Linked DNA regions of Homo sapiens. The protein of the gene in region 1 interacts with the protein of each later gene in a pairwise test. Each region holds a gene or a part of one and is shown on either strand. Other genes may lie near its edges. The genes, in order: CPNE7 and EFHC2.

Region 1 (2,821 bases):
GGGCTCCTGACCCACTGTTGTTCGTGATGTTTGTGATGTAGGCATCACACTCTGAAGGCGGTTCTAGGAAGCTCTGACGCACGGAGGCACTCTGGGCTGTCTGGGGGCCCGTGGGTTGCAGGGCGCATGTGGGCCATGGCAGGTGTGGTGTTGCTGATGCCTTTCCTGTGCCCCCAGCAATACTACATCCTGCTGATCCTGACGGACGGCGTGGTGACCGACATGGCCGACACACGGGAGGCCATTGTGCGTGCCTCACGCCTGCCCATGTCCATCATCATCGTGGGCGTGGGCAACGCCGACTTCACCGACATGCAGGTCCTGGACGGCGACGACGGCGTCCTGCGCTCCCCACGGGGTGAGCCCGCGCTCCGGGACATCGTACAGTTCGTGCCCTTCCGGGAGCTCAAGAACGTGAGTGTCCTGGAGGGGCTCCGTCAAGGCCGGCTTGGGGGTCCCTGTTCATGTCACTGCCCAAGACCTTCCCAGGCCAGGCTCACGCCAGTGGATGTGGCAGGTCCCTTCTTGTGTCTGGGGGATCCTGGGCTGTTCCCCCCAGTCAAGAGCAGTATCTGAAGCCAGGACTTTGAGCACCTGAAACACCCTCCACCGTTTTGAAACTTGTCGAATCTACACAAAAGCAGAGAACAGCACAAGGGGCTCCTGGGATCCACCACGCGGCTTCCCCCGTTGCTGCCAACCTCTGCGACCCGGCGAGACACGCACAGCACACACGTGAGGTTCTACCCGCCGAGACACACACAGCACACACGTGAGGTTCTACCCGGTGAGACGCACAGCACACACGTGAGGTTCTACCAGGCAAGACACACATGTCACACATGAGGCCCTACAGCAAGACGTGCATGCCACATAGATGTGAAGTTCTACACAGCAAGACACCACAGACATGCATGAAGACACGGACACGTGACATTCTACGCAGTGAAACATGCATATTACAGACACATGAAGCTCTGCAGTGAGTCACATCACACAGACACGCTCAGGCTTTGCCGGGGAAGTGTGGGTGGGGCCTGGACCATGGAGGTGGCCTCGCCTCCCGTGTCAGCACTTTTCATCTCCGTGCTTGGGGGGCTGGAAAGACCCACGTGCAGCCTCATGTGGCCGACATCCTCAGCAAGTCTTGCCCGGCACCCAGGTGAGCCTCTGGTGGGGGTGGGTAGTCACCACTCGGCTCTGGAGGATGAGGCCTGGGCCATAATCCAGTTGCAGGGACGGATGATCTCCATCTCGAAGGTCCCAGAGGTAACTGCGTTGTCCCATCCTCCAGGCATCCCCTGCGGCGCTGGCCAAGTGCGTGCTGGCCGAGGTCCCGAAGCAGGTGGTGGAGTACTACAGCCACAGAGGCCTGCCCCCGAGAAGCCTGGGTGTCCCTGCCGGAGAGGCCAGCCCAGGCTGCACACCGTGAAGATGTGGAGGGCGTAGGGTGGGGGCAGTGAGGAATGGGTCCGTACAGCCTCTGTCTGCAACATGCTTGGGGTCCCTTAAGCTCCCTCCGACCTCCCAGAAGCCTCCAGTCCCCACCAGGCCCCACTCCCAGTCCTCCTGGGATCCTGCTGGCTTGGGCCCGGCTCTGGGGCCCCCAAGGCCGAAGGGTGACAAAATACAGGCCCCCATGCCTGGCCCTGCCTGAGCCAGGTGGGTGGAGGGAGGGAGATCATGAGGGACTTGGAGGGAGCTGGGAGTTCATCCACGGGAGACCCTGCCCCGATGAGAAGGGGCAGGGACTGGGGGCTCTGCTTTGCGTCTAACCTTTGTGGGGGAGGGCCAGCAAGGCAGTCCCCCCACGCCCGAGAAAGCCTGGGGGACCCAGACACCTGTCCCCACAGTCAAAGCCTGGGGACCCAGACATCCTGTCCCCACAGTCAGCCTCCTGTCCCTGCTGGTGCCCCCACACCCACCTACCCTGTGCTTTTTGCCGTCGGGCCTCTGCACCTGGGTCCATGGGGTCTGCGGGGTCTGCGGGGTCTGCCTGGCCTGTGGGTTCTGCCGGTGGGGCTTCAGGAGTAATAAAGTGTCACCCTATCCTTGTAGTTCTCTTGTGCCTTCAGTCCCTTCCCCAACCCCCCAGAGGGCTGGGCCTGGCTTCCAAAGTGCCCACATCTGAGGCAGGGGCTCTCCCAGGCCCAGCACACCAGGATCCTCCCTGGACTGAATGGGATGCGGGATGCACAGGCTGCCAGGGGCAGAGAGCGGGGATCCGCACCATGGCTGCCTCCACCCGCGAAGGAGCTCCACTCGGCTTCCTGGGACTCCCAGGCCTGAAACCCAGTGAGTGAGGACTGTGGACGTGATGCAGGGGTGCCAGGAGCCTCCCACATGGCCTGCACCGCAGGGAGCTGGGCTGGAGGGTGAAGCCTCCATGTGATGTTCGTGGAGCCGGGGCATCTCCCACCTGCTGGGACCTCCTCGCCCTGAGTTTGAGATTTCCCCTGAATGATCTTGCCTGAGAAAAACAAATTGTCCTAACCCTGAATCCAGGCCCACCCATCCCCACATCGGTCCATCCACCCACCCATCCGTCCACCCATCGCCCTGCCCACCCATCCGTCCACCCATCCCCCCGCCCACCCATCCGTCCACCCATCCCCCCGCCCACCCATCTGTCCACCCATCCCCCCGCCCACCCATCTGTCCACCCATCCGTCCATCCATCCCCCCACCCACCCATCTGTCCACCCATCCATCCACCCATCCGTCCACCCACCCATCCGTCCATCCATCCCCCACCCATCCGTCCACCCATCTGTCCACCTATCTGTCCACCCATCCGTCCACCCATCCGTCCACCCATCCC
Region 2 (3,826 bases), on another chromosome or scaffold:
GACTGTTATGTACATACAGGTCTATAAAGAAATCAAGATTATAATTTTGTAACTGCCTATATTTAAGCCCAATCATGTCAGTCAGTAAAAGAACCTAATTTTTAAGTCTTGTATAAAATTATATCTTAGGTTATATTTTTACTCATAATGCTTTGTCATATAGTTTTAGTAGCTTTATTATGTAACATTGTCAATACATTTTGATGTTGAAAACAGCATTAATTACGAGTTTACAACCTTTATTTAAATTAAATCATCTTAGCCTACTTTTTGAAAAAGTAAATTCCATCTTAGATATAAACAGAAATAACTTGAATTATTTAACATGTTTATATTATGCTGACTGAAAAGTTTTTTGAATGTATGGAAAGGAAAGAAAGGTAAGCTAAGTTTAACTATCTGTTTTGGGTTTTTTTTCCCTCAAAAAAGCTGGTAAAAAGTCCTTTTCAGTTTTTAATAGGGGAGAAAACTACTTTTGTTCATACCATATACCATATATCATTCCTCAATAGCACCCTCTATAATAGAAACTATAGAGAACTTTTAGGCCTACTTGGATAAGGTAAAAAGGAAAAATAAATCAAGTAGAAAATTTTACCATAAAACAACCTGAAGTTTCCTCTTCTACATTCCCACTTGCTTTAGGGTTGATAACCCTTTGTGAGAAAGGGAAAGAGTAGGTAAATAAGTTGGCTGAAATCAAGAGATCCACAGAAAACTACCATTTTTTACTTTAAAAAGACAATTATTATTGGATTATTATAGCTACAATATTCTCATTCCAGTTGAAAATGAAATTGATATGTGCTTATTTTGAGTTTAACCCAGAATTATTTATGGGAATTTATTTATTTCACATAAATTCGGAACTGGCCATATGGCAGGTGTGTGTTTAACTTTATAAGAAATTACCATTTCGCATTCCCACCAGCAATGAGTGAGAATTCCTGTTATTTCAAATCCATGTGAGCAATTGGTATTGTGTTTTGGATTTTAGCCATTTTAATAGGTATACAGTGGTATCTCATCTTGATTTTAATTCTTATTTCCCTAATAGCTATAATGTTGAACATCTTTTTATGTAATTACATATTTATTATCACAGATTGTGCTAATGTACCATGGGCTATAGATATAGTTTTTATGCAGGAGTTCTCTAAGACCTCAAAATCATTTCAAAGACTCCTCCAGGGTGAAAAGATTGAGATTTGAGGTGATGAAAATGTTCTGAAACTAGTTAGAGGTGTTAGTTGTTGCACAACAGTGTGAATGTACCAAGTACCACTGAATTGTATACTTTTAAATAGTTAGTGGTTAATTTCATGTTACATGAAATTTACCTCAAAAAATTTAAAAATATACATTAAGAAAGGCTGACAAGGCTCTTTGAAGGGTGAGAGATGAGATCTGACCTTGAAAGAAGCTGAAGATCTAAATTTAAATAAGAATTGCCCAGTCTGGACAATACAGTGAGACCGCATCTCTACAAATAATAATTTAAAAAATTAGCTGGGTATGGTGGTGCATGTCTGTAGTCCTAGCTACTGTGGCAACAGAGGTGGGAGGATGTCTTGAGCCCGAGAGGTTGAGGCTGCGTGCAGTGAACTGTGAGCTGTGATCCTGCCACTGCACCCCAGCCTGGGAGAAAGAGCAAGACCCTATCGCAAAAAAAAAAAGATGGAGATGGCTCGAATGAGTGTTTTTCAAACACTGATTGCACAACCACAGTAATAGGCATATTTTAGTGCAGGCCAGTTCACATACATACACAAGCACACACAGGAAGGACAAAAAGGTCCGTGCAACACTTAACTCCTCTCAAGCATAATACACTCTAATTCTTCATTCTACCCCACTCTCTTCTTTTTCTTTTTTCCTTTTCAAAAAAAAAAAAAGCTGGTCATGATTCATTAAATTCCTTTTTTTTTTATTGCTGCAAATTCAAATATGTTTTCTTTTTTCTTAAGGAGGACTTTGCTTCACTACAAATTAGATGATGGGCTATTTACAGCAAACCCTCCTAAGATGGTGGCAAGGTAGCTTCATTAAAAGCAGAAAGAGCGGCCAGGCGCGGTGGCTCACGCCTGTAATCCCAGCACTTTGGGAGGCTGAGGCGGGTGGATCAACTGAGGTCAGGAGTTCGAGACCAGCCTGATCAACATGGTAAAACCCCAATTCTACTCAAAATACAAAAATTAGCCAGGCGTGGTGGCACACACCTGTAATCCCAGCTACTCAGGAGGCTGAGGCAGGAGAATCGATTGAACCTGGGAGGCAGAGGTTGCAGTGAGCCGAGATGGCGCCATTGCGCTCCAGCCTGGGTGACAGAGCGAGACTCCATCTCCAAAAAAAAAAAGCAGAAAGAGTGAGCTCTTCATCATTCATTAGAGACACTCAGGATCAGGATGGGCCACACAACCATCTGTCCAAAATACTGCAGAAAGGATTTTTGGCTTTGGCTGGAAATGTCCCTTTTAATTTTAATATTTTCAATTTTGATAATATGCCCAAGATTCTCTTGCTCAATACAAGTTCAGCATGGAAATTGTTGGAAAAAAGATACAGTGTATCTAGAATTTAGTTGTGATATTTCCCTAAGGTTTTCAACTCATATCAAAATAATTGTAATGTCATCAGAGGTACAAATGTTCATATTTTAGAAGGCACCATACTTCTTGTATTTGAGAGAGAGAAATACAGGTTGCGTATCACCTAGCCGTGGACAGAAATCAATCTATTGCTTTTGACTGACCACTGGCAGCTAAGTAAGGGGCACATAAGTTCCTTTTCAATTCTATGGAAAAGCAATAAAAGTTAGCTGTGTTATAATTTTAAATCCAAACAGCCAAGTAATTATGCTATCTACAGGAGGCCAAGGTTTTTCACTTGGTAATTTAATTCAGCAAGCAGGGGAGGGGGGAAGGGCAAGACTAAAAGGCCAGATATGGCTTTACTGACTTTCTAACCATTCTATGCCAGAGAACATCCAATCTTTTAACTAAGTACAAGTTTTTAAAATATTAATTTGTGGGCAACACACAGTACATTTAGTACCAAGGCTAGTGTAACAATTTTTTAAATGTAGTCACCTAATTTTGGCATATACTAGGATACTCAATAAATAAATACTGATTTGTTGAATGAGTCCAAGGTACTGTCATTCTCTAGTACACACGCACATACACACATGCACGCACACACTCCCATTGTTCTCAGGCATAAAGTAAATAAATGTTTTAAATATTCATGAGTCTAGAAATAGACCCACACGTAGCTGGATGCTTGATTTTTGACAAAGTGGCTCTGCAGAGACATGGAGAAAGAGTGATCTTTTCCAAAAATTATTCATCAAAAACATCATTAAGAGAAGGAAAAGGCCAATCACAGACAAGAAGATACCCAAAATTTATATAGAACTTCTACAAATCACTAAGAAATAGGCAGACAACCCAGTAAACATTAGACAAGAGATAAGTAAGTACTACACAAAAAAGTAGTGACCAATAAATGGTCATACAAATAAAGCCAGGCACGGTGGCTCACGCCTGTAATCCCAGCACTTTGGGAGGCTGAGGCGGGCGGATCGCCTGAAGTCAGGAGTTCAAGACCAGCCTGGCCAACATGGTGAAACCCCGTCTCTACTAAAAATTAAAAAAAAAAAAATTAGCCAGGCATGATGGCGCATGCCTGTAATTCCAGCTACTCGGGAGGCTGAGGCAGGAGAATCGCTTGAAGCCAGAAGGCGGAGGTTGCAGTGAGCCGAGATTGCACCACTGCACTCCAGCCTGGGCAACAGAGCAAGACTCCGTCTAAAAAAAAAAGCAGT

The links.
Region 2: the proteins of CPNE7 (region 1) and EFHC2 interact in binary tests that used the Homo sapiens proteins (3 or more experiments, as listed by UniProt).

Annotation. Positions count from the first base shown.
Region 1 is NC_000016.10:89,595,190-89,598,010, forward strand, and holds the end of CPNE7 (copine-7), read left to right. Parts: intron 1-177; coding exon 178-414; intron 415-641; coding exon of another isoform or gene 642-735; intron 736-1,294; coding exon 1,295-1,432; coding exon of another isoform or gene 1,433-1,449; 3' UTR 1,450-2,057; downstream 2,058-2,821. UniProt on the Homo sapiens protein: Calcium-dependent phospholipid-binding protein that may play a role in calcium-mediated intracellular processes.
Region 2 is NC_000023.11:44,336,847-44,340,672, forward strand, and holds part of EFHC2 (EF-hand domain-containing family member C2), read right to left. Parts: intron 1-3,826. UniProt on the Homo sapiens protein: Microtubule inner protein (MIP) part of the dynein-decorated doublet microtubules (DMTs) in cilia axoneme, which is required for motile cilia beating.